Linked DNA regions of Homo sapiens: region 1 is linked to region 2. A link means that fine-mapping ties the variant in region 2 to the expression of a gene that starts in the linked region. Tissue or cell type: monocytes after LPS. Region 2 holds a variant in brackets; the other region holds the start of a gene. All regions are shown on one strand. Distances are from middle to middle.

Region 1 (8,166 bases), 110 kb after region 2:
TTCCTGTCTGGCCAGGCGCGGTGGCTCATGCCTGTAATCCCAGCACTTTGGGAGGCTGAGGCCGCCGGATCACTTGAGGTCAGGAGTTTGAGACCAGCCTGGCCAACCTGATGAAACCCGTCTCTACTAAAAATACAAAAATTAGTCGGGTGTTGTGGCGGACGCCTGTAATCCCAGCTACTTGGGAGGCTGAGGCAGGAGAATCGCTTGAACCCGGGAAGGGGAGGCTGCAGTGACCCGAGATCATGCCACTGCACTCCAGCCTGGGCGAGAGTGGGACTCTGTCTCAAAAACAAATAAACTAAATAAAATAAATAAAAAACTGAGTAAATTTTTTTTAGGAGATAAATGAGTGATGCAGATTCAATACGTCTCTACCTGATTAATTATAAATAGCGTATAGAGTCTTAGTTATACAATCCTAGTTATATAAATGCATTGACTAGACTTACAGACACTTTAAAAAATTGTGTACCGATATCACTTTCAAACTTTCTTCTAAACTTGTTTTTTAAAAAAATTTCGTGACTACAGAACTTGCTGAAGTCATTGTTTTTTTGTTTTTTTTTTTTGCATAAGCATATAGTCCCTGGATGAAGTCATTCCTTTGACAATGACTTGATTAAACCCATATCAGGCAGAATATGAAAACCACCTAAGGATTAATTTGGATATTGTTCAAATTAATATTAATAAATGCTCCTCTTCCCAGAGAACTGTTAGCATAATTGTGGCCTTTTATCCTTCCAAAAGCACTTGTCATTTAATTATTAGGGTGATTTTTCTGATTCTTTGTTAGATTCTTTGAGATAGCACAAATAGTGCTAATTTTATTAAGACTATATTTCGATAAATCAAAACATCAAGTTCCCTACTCTCGAGGAGTAACTTTTGACCCACAACACATCTGAATGTTTACTAATTATCTTTTAAAGCAGTTTTAAGTAAATCAAAGCTGTTTGCCAAGCAAGGTCCATGTTTTGTAACTTCCAGCTGTGAAGCCCCCACTATACAAAGTAGATATATTAAATGTTAATCACTTTAGCTCTAATTAAATATTTAGTCCTTCAAAGACCTAGAAAAAGTGAAAAAGGTTGAAGTTGATACATATTTTTTTTTCTAAAAGGCCTAAAAGATCTACTAGAAACAACTATTTTAAATCACATCTCTCCCCAAATGGTTAAAAATCGAACTATTAATCCAGTAGTTTACCTTTGGTACCTTCTAGGTGTAAGACCGTTTGGGCTGGGCGCGGTGGCTCACGCCTGTAATCCCAGCACTCTGGGAGGCCAAGGCAGGTGGATCACAAGGTCAGGAGATCGGGACCACCATGGCTAACACGGTGAAACCCCGTCTCTACTAAAAATATAAAAAATTAGCCAGGCGTGGTGGCAGGCGCCTGTAGTCCCAGCTACTCGGGAGGCTGAGGCAGGAGAATGGCGTGAACCTGGGAGGCAGAGCTTGCAGTGAGCCAAGATTGCGCCACTGTACTCCAGCCTGGGAGACAGAGCGAGACTCCGTCTCAAAAAAAAAAAAAAAAAAAAAAAGGCCGTTTTAAAAAACATCATCATCATAACCACGATCAACATTATTGCCATCATCATTGCTAATATTTATTAGAAGTTTACTCTGTACTGGGTTATATGCTTTACAAACAAGAGTTTTATTTGCTCCTTACAACAACCCTATGAGGTAGATGCTGTTATTATCTCCATTCTGTCTAAAGCTTAATAAGGTTAAGTAACTTGACCAATGCCTAACTAGTAGCTGCCAGATCCCGGAATTGAAACCAGGCTAACTTAGTTTAAAGCCCTTGCTCCCAACTTTTATGTTCCCGAAGCCCACTTAATTCATTTAAATTTGGTATAAATTGACTTTAATTATGGCCTTTTTGTTAGAATCCATTATAGTCTTCTCTTTTATCAACAAATGTTGGATAAAGTATGCATTCAGGGAGGCTGGGCATGGTGGCTCACACCTGTAATCCAAGGAGGCTGGGCATGGTGGTTCACACCTGTAATCCCAGCACTTTGGGAGGCCGAGGCAGGCGGATCATAAGGTCAGGAGTTCGAGACCAGCCTGGCCAACATGGTGAAACTCCGTCTCTACTAAAAATACAAAAATTAGCTGGGCATGGTGGCGGGCGCTTGTAATCCCAGCTACTTGGGAGGCTGAGGCAGGAGAACCAATTGTTTGAACCCGGGAGATGGAGGTTGCAGTGAGCCGAGATAGTGCCATTGCACTCTAGCCTGGGTAACAGGGCGAGATTCCGTCTCAAAAAAAAAAAAAAAAAGGGCATTCAAGGAATAGGAAGACAAAGTATAATGGAAAAGTAAATGAACAAAAAGGATTTAAAAAAACAAATCCCAACTGTCAGATTAGTGGACAGTGAACCAATGCTCTGAGTTTGTTCATCAATCTGTGGTAGAACTACAATTGTTTCCTAAAGAGTGGAAAGGCTTTGAATAAAAGTGGAGAGGTAGAGAGGGCTCTCCCAGGACAGGTTGATTGCTTCCGCAAAGGCAAAGGGTCTGTAAAGTGCTAGGCGAGTGGGAACAAGTGGGAATAGTTCTGTTTGACTACATTTGAGGGTTTGAGAAAGGAAAGGGAGGGTAGAAGGGATGGAAGTGGGAATCACATATGTTTAATGATGTCTTGTTCGGTGCCAAGGACAGTTTTAGACCCTGATAAGCGGAAAGCTTTGAATACTCAGGAGGTGAATTTGGGTCATTTCATCTCCTCTCTTAGCTGCTGTATGACCCTGTGCCATCCTATTTATGTTTCATTTTCCTATCTGCAAAAAGGGAGTAATTCTTGTTCCCTTGGGTTTTCTCCTAGTCATAAAAAATGAATGAGTTCGGCCACAGTACACAAACAAAAGGAAAATATGTAATATTTTGTAGGATAAATTCATAAAAGTTGTGGAGGATCTGGGCACTTTTATAAAGCAAGCACTGTAGAAAACTTTCAAAGGAAACATTTAAATTCACTAATGACAGCTATAGGGATCCTGATTTTTCCTTTAAATGGCAGGCACTTCAAAAAATTAAAATAGAATGTAGTTAGCTTTCAATTACTTAGGCCACTGACAATTCAATTTATGGATTATATAGTATTTTAATTTACTCATTTCACACGTCGTTATCAACTCTACATGAAGTTTAAAAGGACAAAGGATGCAAGTGGAATTGGTCAGTGTTCCGGGTTATTTCCAAGGGAGGCAGAGGGTGGGGGGTTTCCTTTGAGACAAGACTTGGGGTTGGCCAATAATTGCTGGTATTGCCTGCCTGGTAATAACAGGCTGATGAAAAGGTGACTACAACGTGAAAACTGGTTAAATCAAGCGCACCCTCCCACCCTCGTTTTAGATGAGGAATTTTCCGCCCTCACAGAAGGGGCTGAGGCAGCATCTGGCATCACAACACTAACATTTGCTTCGTGATTTCCTCTTTACCCGGCCCTTTGACACACATCCCTTCCCAGAAATCAGGATTCGCTGGTGCTTTTGCATTTCTAAAATGGGAATCCCGTGGCTGAGCTTTTAGCCGGCCGGAACGACTGAGGGCTGCATCCCTTTCCCGCAGGAGCGGGGCTCCCGCCTCCAGTTCTGTTCCAGGCCTGACTCCTCCACTCCCTCCGTGACTCATGTCCTGCGGATCCTTCGCCCCCGACGCGCCCCCCAACACACAAACCCCCAGAATCCGCCCCCAGCCTACAGCGCGACGTCAGCCCGCCCCAGCCGACTTGGAGGTCTCGGGTCTGAGTCACACAGAAAGACCACCCTCGTCGGCATCCCCACACACAGTCCGACACCCGGCGCGCCGGCCTCCCCGCCTGACACACTAACGCCCGTCGTCTCCGCGCAACTTGTTATGCTCCGGCTCGAGCCCTTGACCCAAAACCCTCAGCGAAACGGAGAGCCGCAGAGCCGGCCTCGGGCGGCCTTTGATGGCTTTGTTATTGTTTGGGTTTGAATCGATACGCCCCTCCCCATCCTTCCTCCCTCGCGGCCCTACACCCAGCTCCCGCCTCCCCTCACGCCCCGCGCCCCTCCCCCTCCATTTTGGCGCCTTTTCCTTCCCGCCACGTCGTGGCGGCGTAGAGACCATTCTGACCGCGAGAGCTGGGCGGGGCGGGGGCGGGGCGCGCCGAGTTATGCAGATCAATCGGCCTCTGGTTGGCTGGAGTAGCGCTGGCAGGGGCGGGGCCGGGGCGCGGCCACAGAGCGCGCGGGGCGGGGGCCGAGGGGAGTCGCCCAGTCCCGCCGCTTCCCCACCCCCTCTCCTCCCTCGGCCGGCCCGGCAGCCCTGCTCCCCGCCTTGGCCTCCCGGAGAGGCCCCGCCCCGTCCCCGCCCGCCGCGCCCTCCCCGCGCGCCCTCCCCGCCGGCGCGCTCCTCCCCTTTACTCCTGGCTGCGGGGCGAGCCGGGCGTCTGCTGCAGCGGCCGCGGTGGCTGAGGAGGCCCGAGAGGAGTCGGTGGCAGCGGCGGCGGCGGGACCGGCAGCAGCAGCAGCAGCAGCAGCAGCAGCAACCACTAGCCTCCTGCCCCGCGGCGCTGCCGCACGAGCCCCACGAGCCGCTCACCCCGCCGTTCTCAGCGCTGCCCGACCCCGCTGGCGCGCCCTCCCGCCGCCAGTCCCGGCAGCGCCCTCAGTTGTCCTCCGACTCGCCCTCGGCCTTCCGCGCCAGCCGCAGCCACAGCCGCAACGCCACCCGCAGCCACAGCCACAGCCACAGCCCCAGGCATAGCCTTCGGCACAGCCCCGGCTCCGGCTCCTGCGGCAGCTCCTCTGGGCACCGTCCCTGCGCCGACATCCTGGAGGTTGGGATGCTCTTGTCCAAAATCAACTCGCTTGCCCACCTGCGCGCCGCGCCCTGCAACGACCTGCACGCCACCAAGCTGGCGCCCGGTGAGAGCACCCCCCGCCTCCGGCCCGGGGATGCGGGGCGGCGGCGGGATCTCCTGGGTGGGGAGCTGGCGGCTCGCGGGCCGGCACTGAGTCCCCGTGCTTCCCCCTTTCCTAGGCAAGGAGAAGGAGCCCCTGGAGTCGCAGTACCAGGTGGGCCCGCTACTGGGCAGCGGCGGCTTCGGCTCGGTCTACTCAGGCATCCGCGTCTCCGACAACTTGCCGGTGAGTGGGCGCCCCGCGGTGGGGAGGGCGCGCCGGGCGGGGGGCGCACGGGCGTGCTTTAGCCCGGACGAGGGAACCTGACGGAGACCCTGGGCTTCCAGGTGGCCATCAAACACGTGGAGAAGGACCGGATTTCCGACTGGGGAGAGCTGGTGAGTGCCCTGCAGGAGCGACCCCCAGGATGAGTGGGTGGGGTGAGGGGCGCCCCCGACTCCCGCCCTAACGCGGCCCCCTCGCCCCTGCAGCCTAATGGCACTCGAGTGCCCATGGAAGTGGTCCTGCTGAAGAAGGTGAGCTCGGGTTTCTCCGGCGTCATTAGGCTCCTGGACTGGTTCGAGAGGCCCGACAGTTTCGTCCTGATCCTGGAGAGGCCCGAGCCGGTGCAAGATCTCTTCGACTTCATCACGGAAAGGGGAGCCCTGCAAGAGGAGCTGGCCCGCAGCTTCTTCTGGCAGGTGCTGGAGGCCGTGCGGCACTGCCACAACTGCGGGGTGCTCCACCGCGACATCAAGGACGAAAACATCCTTATCGACCTCAATCGCGGCGAGCTCAAGCTCATCGACTTCGGGTCGGGGGCGCTGCTCAAGGACACCGTCTACACGGACTTCGATGGTGAGCCAGGCCCGGGAGGGAGCTGCCCAGGTGACTCGGCCCGGCCCGGCCCAGTCCGGAGGCCTCGGCCAGTCTCCCGCGCCAGCCTTTTGTAAAGGTCATTGGGCCGCCTGGCTCGATGCTAGCCGGGGTGGGACGCAGGAGAGCCTCCCAGCGTAGTAAAGCCGGGGATTTTCAGCCAGCTGAACCTGTAATGTTTCTGGCATGATTTTATTCTTCAAGTGGAATTCAGTTAGTTCCAGGCTTTCCCGATGAATAAGAGGTTGTGGGCAACCGGCGGTAGCCCAGATTTTTCTAAAGTCTGACCCAGTTTCCCCGCCAGTAAAAGGATGGGGGCGGGGGAAGAGGTGGAAATTGATGCCGGTTTTGTAATTTTTGTTTTATTTTATAAGGGAGTTAGTTTTCTGTATGGTAGTTTTAGAGCTGCAGTTCTTAACTCCTTTCTGATCTAGGGAAGGTTAAGGAATAGGAACTATATTATTACTGGTGGCTTTTTTTTTTCTTTAGTGTTAAGGGGAGAGAGAGTCAGGAATGAATGTTGTGAAATAAGATCTGTCGCTGGTTTGAAAATTAGTTGGGTGTCTCCGCAGAGAGGATGAAAACCTATCCTAGGGAGGGGCTTGGAGCGGGTTCTTTCAGAAAAGAAGGAATGGAGAGCCTGAGATCAAAGCTGCGGAGGGTGGGTCATCATCTGAGCGGCTTAACCTAACAAACGACAGCCTTTCAAAACTTGTGACTCGGGCTTGTGGTTTATGTTTATTTGCCCTTGGAGGACGCTGGGTTGGGCTGCATTTTTTGTATTTAACAGTTAATGGCTGGCCGGGTCCTCCCATGTTTTTTCTTTCAAGTCTTTGCTGCCCCCTGGTGAGCACCAGCGGCATGGCCCCTCCTTTTTCTTTTACTACCCAAAGTTTGTAAACAGGAATCACGTGGTCTGAAACCAACCCTGCAGCTCTGTCTACCTTTCCAGTCTAGGGAGGAAAGGGTGTGGGTGTCTGCTCCTGCTTGCATCGGGTGGGGAGGAAGGCCTCCCAAAGGGCACCCTGACTTAGGATGTTGTGCAAGCATCCTTGCTTGGATCCTGTCGGCCATGAGAATCTCACCCGGGCTCCTGGGCAGTGGTGAATGCAATTTAAGGATAGTCTATGAGATACCTTTCTTGGTTGTGCAGACATGCATCCCTTCATCCTTCGCAGGCGGTCCTGCCTCACAGGGCCTCAAGTTTTGGGTCTGCGGCCAGCTGTGTTTGTTTCTTGGAGCAGTTCATAAAGAATTTCAGTTTATGGTTTGGGCTAGCAGAGAGGTGGGTAATGCTTTGGGTTGGAGAGATGCCGTAAGGTGCGCCTCCACTCTCCTTAGCCCAGAGGGAAAAATGGAGTTCACCTAGCTCCTGAGAGAAGGGATTTTTTTTTTTTTTAAAAGAAAGAGTTATATATACCACCCAGCTTCTTTGTGCTTGTTTTTGCTAAAAGTGTGTTTTCTCTTCTATTCCCTTGGCTCACAGGGACCCGAGTGTATAGCCCTCCAGAGTGGATCCGCTACCATCGCTACCATGGCAGGTCGGCGGCAGTCTGGTCCCTGGGGATCCTGCTGTATGATATGGTGTGTGGAGATATTCCTTTCGAGCATGACGAAGAGATCATCAGGGGCCAGGTTTTCTTCAGGCAGAGGGTCTCTTCAGGTAACTGATGGAAACCCCTGGCCATGGGGTTATTGGTCTTAATGGGGCTATTAGTCTTCATGGGACAGTCTTTGAAATTCTGGAGAGCTTCACTCTCCAGTAGATTCTGTCACCCTTGGCTTAGAATTGTAGGTGAGTGATTTACACTTGAGCTGGCCTCATAAATCACATGGTTTGCACTTGAGCTTTCCTTGGGAGGTCAGAGGAAGGCATGTGTGAGCATATTAAGAAGAAAAGACAATCTGGCTTCTCCAAAAACTTTTTTAAAGGTACCAACAGAAACCTGATAATTCCTGGCTGTTTTGCCAGGGAGTAAAAAGTTAAAAGCTCTTTTAGCATCTTCTTTAAGGCAGCAGCTCCAAATATTTTGGTACCAGTGACCTCACTGTGGGTGGTGTTCGTGTTTGTAAGTTGGTAGGTGAATTGAATCATTTCATCATGCTCAGTGGTGTCTCATCAAAATCTCTTGTCATCATCCTTCCTATTTCTGGTGAGTGGGTGTTGTGGGAAAGGCCCCCACTATTGAAGTTTGAAAACCACAGGTTTAAGAGGGGAGTCAGTTTTTAGCTGAAAGCAGACTGGAGGACCCAGATATTAGTCAATACCTTCCTATTGAAGGGTACCCAGCACAGTGTTCTAGAAAATGCTTGGCCTCCCTGGGACCCCAGACTTGTGGGCCTCTGAGAAGCAAATGGGGAAGACCTTTGCAGTGTAAAAACAAGTTGAGTCATTCATAACCTCG
Region 2 (8,166 bases):
GTCCTTTGATGTTAAAACTCTCAGAAACGGCCGGGCGCGGTGGCTCATGCCTGTAATCCCAGAACTTTGGGAGGCCGAGGCGGGTGGATCACAAGGTCAGGAGATCGAGACCATCCTGACTACCACGGTGAAACCCCATCTCTACTAAAAAAATACAAAAAAAACTAGCCAGGCATGGTGGCGGGCGCCTGTAGTCCCCGCTACTCGGGAGGCTGAGGCAGGAGAATGGCTTGAACCCGGGAGGCAGAGCTTGCAGTGAGCCAAGATCCACTGCACTCCAGCCTGGGCGACAGAGTGAGACTCCGTCAAAAAAAAAAAAAAAAAAAAAAAAAAACTCTCAGAAACGTGAATTTAAGGTCAGCACAACAATCCAGTACAACAAGGTGCCAGACTATATCTGCTTGACTTAAACACTCCCTACTGTTGGACATGCAGGCTGTGTATTTATTTATTTGGCGATTCTAAATAATCCCCTGTGAAGGGTTTGATCCATCAGTGCTGCCTGCATTTCAGATGGCTTCCCCAGCAGAACTTCCTTGAAAGGGATTCACTGGGTCAAAGGGCATGAAAGTTTAAAAGTCTTGATACATATGGACAAAATACTTTCCAAAAATATGCCGGCTGACGGTCCCACCTAGGGTGGGAGGGAGATGACAGCCTGCTCAGCTCAACTCACATAAAACCCTGCTTAGCCCAATTCCTGACATCTGAGATTAAACGAGGTGGCCCAAGCCCCCCAGCAGGGAAGAAGGGCCCAACTCTGTCCAAACTCCACATTGGTCAACCTGCGGAGTGCCATGTCCCACGTCACACTCCAGGTAGAAGATGTGGCACCTCAGGCCAAGCACGACCTGGGCAGAGCTGCCCTCCCGCTCTTGGAGCCAGGATTGTTCTTCAGCCCTCACTTTCTTTCATACCTCATGTCCAGGATGTCTGCAAGTACATTTGGGGCTACCTTCAAAACATCCCCAGCTGGGCATGGTGGTGCACACCTGTAGTCCCAGCTACTCAGGAGGCTGAGGAGGGAGGATCGCTTGAACCCAGGAGTTCAAGGCTGCAGTGAGCTATGATCATGCACTGCCCTCCAACCTGGGCAACGGAGTGAGACTTCACCTGTAAAAAATGAATTAATTTAAAAAACTCCACATCCTGAATGTGACCACAGCTCCTCTCTCCACCACTACCCTGGCCCACCTCTCACCTGGTTATCTCAGTAGCCCCCTCTTTGACTCTCTGCCTCCCCGGGCGTGAGCCACCGCGCCCGGCCGTTTCTGAGAGTTTTAACATCAAAGGACAACGCTTATGCTACGATGTCAAGTGGATACCACGGTATGCACGAAGCAGACACATAGACAAGAAAAAGACCCCCTTAGAGTCTGTTCTCCATAGCAGCCAGAGAGATCCTTTCAAAACCTAGGTTACATCAGCTCAGCCCTGAGCTCACAACCCTCCAGTGGCTCGTTCACGTGGGGTAAAAGCAAAGCCCTCACTATGACCCGCAAAGCCTTTAGGACCTGTGCCTCCCGCACTCCCATCACCTCCCTCACCTAACATCCTGCCACTCCCCTGCACCCTCTCAGCTCCCTGATGCTCCTCAGAACACCTCCAAGTGCATTCCTGCCTCAGGGCCTTTGCACTTGCCGTTACTCCTGCCTGGCATATTTCCTCAGGTACCCACAGGGCTCCTCTCCTCAACTGTCATCTCAAAACAATCATAAGCAAACAGGATCTGCTTTGGGAAGGCCCTCCCTGATCAGCCCATCTGAAGAAGCGCCCTGGCCCCTCTCTCTTCCCTCACCCTGCGTCGTGCTCCCTTACTCTGCGATTATTCTCTGCCCTCTCTAGTAGTAGAAAGCCTCCACAGGACTGCACTCTGTCTGTCTCGTTCACTGCTGCAACCCTGGCACCTGTGTGCCGCCTGGCTCCCAGTTGGTGTTCCACTGTACATCTGCTGAATGTTGACTTGAATGGGAGATTGCACTGTCTGGGTATGTGCGTGTGGCTTCCCCTGCCTGGGTGATACCTTACTGTCTCTAAGGTCCCCAGCTCGCAGATACTGCCTGGCATTTAGTAAGTAGCCAGGTTGGATTCGCTGTACAAATGGACACATGAAGACAGGAAGGAACTCACAGCAGGGCAGGAGAGACCACTGCATGGGGGTCAGGAAACTGGAATTCCAGATAAACCCCTGCCACTCACCATCATTAGGCCTTGGGCAAGTCACTTCACCTCTTTGAACCTTAGTTTTTCACCCATAACATGGGCATGGTGACCCCTGTGCTGTTGGCCTCACAGGGCTGTTGTGAGGATTACATGACAAAGACAAAGCAAGGCACAGGGACAGCCCTGCTCAAGCTGCAGCTCTCCCATGAGGCTCCACCTGACACCTCACCTTGCCAGGCCAACCAATCCTTTCTCTGAGCCCCCGAGGAGCCCCTCCAGCGCCTCATAGATTGTGTGTGTGTGTGTGTGTGTGTGTGTGTGTGTGTGTGTGTGTGTGTGTGTGTCAGGGCCCTGCTGGTGCTTTTATGGAAGCTATATTTTTATGACTACCCTCCCCAAACTGTGCACCCCTTGAGATGGGGCCCTGCCCCACCATCTTTGCGTCCGTTGGTCTTACCCTGTGCCTGGCAGCTAGGAGTGCTCCTGGGACATCTGATGACTGGCCAAGTACATTTGTTGAAAGCTATGGATGTATGAGTATGATGTGAGTAACTACAGGTGGCGACTTTAGGCCTGCATAGATGGCTGGGGTGAGGCAATTCAGCAAGGGGCTATTTGGGTTCTGGGGCAGGAGGGCCAGGTGGGGCCTCAAGTGCCCCCCGGCCCCCCCGCCGAGAGGAAGGGAGGGGGGTGGTGCTGGACTGGCCAAGTTCACTGTAGGCCAAGGGCTGGACAGCTTCCTCCCCAGACATGGGCCACATCGGCCACATCTTCTGAGCTGCGGGGTGGAGGCCTGGCTGCCCACCTGCATTCCTTACTCTGCGTACCCATGATCTCATCCCGGCCCTCAGCCACCCACAGGGCAGGAGGCTTTGCCCCATTGTGCAGATGAGACAGCCATGCCCTGCCCTGGGATGGTCATTTGGCCTGGGCTCAGGGCACTCTAGTGGGCCCCAGGCTCCGGCGGGGTGAGTGGAATGTGGTCACGGAGGCCACCCCACGCTGTCTTGTTGGGTTTAATGAGCCCCATTGGTCTGTCCATACCCTGAATAAGCTCTGGTCTACCGACCCTCCTATGGGCTGCTGGGGCGGGGGAGGTCCCAGGGTTTTCCAGATTCAGCTGTCCTCCCTCTGCAGTCTCAGGGACCCAGACAGGGCTGGCTGACAAACAGGTCCTGCCCGGGATGGGCGTGGGGCTGAGCGAGCGAAACTCCTTTTAGGAAGGAAATCTCGGCCAGGTTGAGAAACCAGCATCTTGCCAAGGCCTAGGGGGTGGGGGAGCCCAGGTGAGCCGACTCAGTCCTCAGGAATGGGTGGGGTCTCCAGGAGAGGCGGGCACTTCCTCCGCCCCAGCCCAGGGTCCTGTTCAATCCTTATTGAGGAGTTTCCTGGCGACAGGCAGTGACCTGTCGGCTGCCTGTGTGGGAAGCCGCTTGGCGTGGCCCTCCCCATCTCATTAGTGGTGATTCACCTGGACTCACCTGGCTGTCAGGGACCTGTCCCACTGCCCGCTGGAACCAGCTCAGCAGGCACCCTCTGAGGGGCAGAGACCTCGTTCCCTCAGCTCCCCGTCCTCCATGGTGTCCAGGGCAGAGTGTACCAGGCACACAGTCAGAGCTCACAATTCATTCATTTGACTAACAAATATTTACTGAGCACCTACTGTATGCCAGACACTGGGCGAGGTGCTGGGGCTACAGAGTGAACCAGGCAGACCCAAATCCCTGCCCTCTTGGAACTCACATTCTTGTGGGAAAAGTCAGACAGTAAACAAATAAATAAGTGAATCACATAAGCTGCAGAAGATGGTGAGTG[C/T]TGTGGAGAAAAATAAAGGCAGGAAGAGTGTGAGATGGGGGCCATGCCTTTAAATAGGGTGTTCAGGGTGGGCCTTTCTGAGAATGTGGTATTTGAGCAAAATCTGATGAAGGTGGAGGTAAAGAAGGGAGCTGTGCAAATAAGGGAGAAATAAACTATACCAGGAAACAGCGAGTGCAAAGGCCCTGGGGTGGGAGTGGGAGTCAGGGTGGTTTCAGGAATAGCCAGGAGACACGTAGCTGAAGCAAGCTGGCAACAGGGCAGATAGCGGAAGACGGGGTCAGAGAGGTGGAGGTGGTGCAGACTTGTGGGGTCTTATAGGCCTTTGTAGGAACTTTGGCTTTTTCTCAGTTGATTTCTGTCAAAATGCTCCCAAATCCCCCAGTTGAACCTGAGACCAGCGCCTCAGTCTTCTTCCGCCCGGCTTGGAGCTTGCAGAGATAACTCAAGGGTCAGGGGTGTTTTCACTGGGAGGCTACCTTCTAGCAGGGTCTGGGTGGATAAGTTTGCTGGGCAGGGGTGAGGTGCCCGTGGAGCACATGTGAAGAGGAGGAAGACTGTTCAGGACACAAGTACTTGCTGCAGGGGGATTTGGTGGGAAGAGGAGCAGAAAGGAGCTAAGCTGAAAGAGAAAGGTGAGGCCCGTTCTGTAGGAGCCAGCCTCACGCAACTGTCCTTCCAGCCTCAGCTGGGATTGTGCCCCAGCTGACAGTCCATGCTCCAACATCTCTCTTTAGTCTGGGTCTTTGCACTGCTCTTCCTTCTGCCTGGAAATCCTCACTGTCCTTTGCCTGGTAAATTCCCATGCATCCTGGCGGTCTTGGCTTAGATATTACGAAGTGGTCCCTTAGGTCCCAGAGCAAGGGCTCCTCCCATGGGCCCAGCACGCCCCCCACTGAAGCATGTTTCACATCGTATCATAACTGCCCACCGTGGGGTCTTGCTTCTCTGTGAGACCATGGCCTCCACAAGGGCTTGGACCATGTTGGGGTTTGCCTAGAACAGAGGCTGCCACAGGTGCGAGCAAACACGCACTAGGATTTGGATCCCTCAGATGCTTCCAAGCAGAGTAACAAGATCAGACTCACATTTTAGAAAGATGACTCTGACTCCAGTGTCTATGTTGGGGAGTGGGCGGGGCTGGAGATGGGCAACAGCTTAGAGGCTATTGCAATAGTCCAAGCAGATGCAAGGAAGGATAGAACCAGCGAGTCAGCTGCTGGGAGCAAGAAGAGGAGCACGATCTGGGAGAGTTTTTGGAAGAGACATCAACAGGACCTGGTGACCACTGGCCCTGGGGATAGTGAGAAGGGAGTGGAGGGTGGGTCCAGCTTTCCCTCTGTTATTTTGTGTCCTTCCTCCTGTCTTGCCGGTGAACAGATCCGACTTCCTAAGGCACAATATAGTGCAGCGGTTATGAGCACAGGCTTTGGAGCCCAACTCTGGGTTCGGCTCTCCTCTCCACTACATACTTGCTGGGTAAGATTGGGACAGATTTACTCAACCTCTCTGTCCCTCAGTTTACCCGTCTGTAAGGCAAGGATGGTAACTGAGATTTAATTACTGCATTTCATGGATTCTAAGATGATTAAAATTGATCTCCATTTTAACATTTCTGAAATCAGGGTGAGTCTGAAAATCAATGGCATATCAAGGATTAATTGGCAGCATCGTTTAGTGGTACACAAATAACGTGATGTCTAATGATTGATGGAACTGTAGATTTGATGAAACACAAAAATACACGGAGAGACCAGTACCTGGCATGTCGTAAGGGGTGAATAAACATTAGCTGTTATTATTATTGTCATAATTTGTTTTCTGGAGAATTGTTTGCATACAAGGTAACAAATGCCCAATCAGATTAAGAGACAAATATAATTAGGAGCTAAAAGAGAAAAGAAAGCCGGGTGCGGTGGCTCACGCCTATAATCCCAGCACTTTGGGAAGCCAAGGTGGGTTGATCACTTGAGGCCAGGAGTTTGAGACCAGCCTGGGCAACATGGTGAAACCGTGTCTCTACCAAAAATAAAAAAAAATAGCCAGTCTCATAACCTGGTCTCAAAATAAATAAATAAATTAATTAATTAATTAATTAAAAATTTTAAAAAGAGAGAGAAAAGAAGCTAATTCATAAATAGATACAAAGCCTTAAAACTTTTAGTAATCTCCCCCCCAAAAATTCCCAAAGCCGAATGCTTCCCCTGAAAGGTCCTACAGAATTCTGCCAAAGTTCCAGAGAAAACTTTAGAAATTCCTCCTTTACAAAGGGGACCAGAACTTCTGGCTCCCTGACCGGCAGGGGGAACCAGGGCATGTCCCTGGATGACTTTGGGGGTGTTCCCTGTGTCCTTGTGAATTTCCCTGAGTCACCATTACTCACTGCCCACAATCAGGGCTCTGCTACCTTCCAACCAGGAGAGCAACAACACCCGGGGATCAAGGGCCATCCTCAAACAAAAGTGTGATTATAACGCGTTCTGCACGGGCTATAAACCGTCCCCAGCTCCGGAGAGCAGGGTGACCCTCACCAGCGTCTTATTTCTGGCCTCCTGGGTTGTGTTCCTGCCTACTGACTTGGCAAATCCTAGGCGACTCGCCTTGTTTTCTCTCCTCACTTAAATACATGTCTGGAAAAAGCCTCCACCCCCACAGACCCTGCTGTGTGCGGAGAGGGTGGCATGCCTGGAGGAGGAGGAGAGACAGGGCGGGCTGACTCGCAGAGCCTCCTGCTCCCTGTGGAGAAGACTTGGCCCAGGAAGGCGCCCCCAGGCCCAGCTACTGGGGGAAGCAACACTTCCCGGCTCCTGTGCTCCTTCAGGCTCAGCCAGGACCCTCAGCACAGCTCTTATTCTCTCCTGCTGTTGTCTGCATTGCCAGGGGACTGTCTTGGCTACCCCCACCCTGTCAGGCTCACACACCAGGGCCTGGTGACAGGGGCAGCCTCGACCTCCCAGACTCAAGTGACCCTCCCACCTCAGCCTCTCAAGTAGCCGGGACCACAAGTGCACATGGCCACGCCCGGTAAATTTTTGTATTTTTTGTAGAGAAGGGGTTTCACCATGTGGGCCAAGCTGATCTCAAACTTCTGGGCTCAAACATTCCTCCTGCCTTGGCCTCCCCAAGTGCTGGGATTATAGGCGGGCATCTCCATTTCCTTTTCACAGCTGAGGAAACTAGGCCCAGTGATAGAAACTGATTTACAAGAATCGGAGTGCTCCCTCTCATTGACAGAAAGGAAATGGGCTTTCAACGTGAGTGCTCCATTTCCTCAAATTGAGCATAAGTTCCTTGGCAACAAGCCATACTCATCTTACATTTCTTGACTTGCTGGAAGCATTAAGCACAATGCTGGGCACATGCAGTTAGTGGGTATCAAACACTTAAGAACTAGTTGATTTGAAGTAAATAAATAGGCCAGGCAAGGTGGCTCACGCCTGTAATCCCAGCACTTTGGGAGGCCAAGGCAGGCAGACCTCCTGAGGTCAGGAGTTCAAGACCAGCCTAGCCAACATGGTGAAATCCTGTCTCTACTAAAAATACAAAAAATTAGCCGGGCGAGTTGGCAGGTGCCTGTAGTCCCAGCTACTTGGGAGAATTGCTTGAACCTGAGAGTCGGAGGTTGCAGTGAGCCGAGATCACGCCATTGCACTCCAGCCTCGGCAACAAGAGCGAAACTCTGTCTCAAATAAATAAATAAATAAATAAATATTAATTTAAAATAAATAAATAAAACAACTTTTCAAATAACCATGATGAATTTTCACAGAAAATATCATTTAAGCACTTTCAGCTCATAAAGCATTTTCACATACATTAGCCTATGTGCTCCTGATGGAGTAACTGGATAAAAGAGATCATTATCGGCCGGGTGCAGTGGCTCACACCTGTAATCCTAGCACTTTGGGAGGCCGAGGCGGGCGGATTACCTGAGATTGGGAGTTTGAAACCAGCCTGACCAACATGGAGAGACCCCTTCTCTACTAAAAATAAAAAAATAGCCAGGTGTGGTGGCACGTGCCTGTAATCCCAGCTACTCAGGAGGCTGAGGCAGGAGAACCGCTTGAACCCGGGAGGCAGAGTCTGCAGTGAGCCAGTTAGACTGCAGCCTGGGCAACAAGAATGAAACTCCATCTCAAAAAAAAAAAAGATCATTATCATATCTATTTCACAGATGAGGAAGCGCAG

Alleles and levels. Positions count from the first base shown, and alleles are read on the strand shown. Sizes are in standard deviations (SD) of each study's normalised expression.
In carriers of allele T in region 2, the expression in monocytes after LPS of the gene that starts at base 4,404 in region 1 tends to be higher than with C alone (large effect, 1.3 SD a copy in Fairfax 2014).

What was found. PIP is the estimated chance that this variant, and not a neighbour inherited with it, causes the effect.
Region 1: it holds the start of PIM1, and the variant in region 2 is fine-mapped to the expression of PIM1 in monocytes after LPS (Fairfax 2014, PIP 0.95).

The regions. Positions count from the first base shown.
Region 1 is chr6:37,165,749-37,173,914 of GRCh38, forward strand. It overlaps PIM1 (Pim-1 proto-oncogene, serine/threonine kinase), which reads left to right and starts at 4,404. Exons shown (of 6, transcript NM_002648.4): 1 at 4,404-4,909; 2 at 5,025-5,131; 3 at 5,233-5,283; 4 at 5,377-5,743; 5 at 7,248-7,424. The coding sequence starts at 4,828. RefSeq lists enhancers at 3,649-4,247, 6,169-6,762 and silencers at 3,873-4,652, 4,913-5,232, 6,422-6,521.
Region 2 is chr6:37,053,127-37,061,292 of GRCh38, forward strand. No RefSeq gene overlaps it. Among named protein-coding and RNA genes, the nearest start is that of FGD2, 52 kb to the left of the region's middle. RefSeq lists enhancers at 3,169-4,055, 4,103-4,604, 4,605-5,104. The variant C/T (reference allele first, on the strand shown) is at 3,979.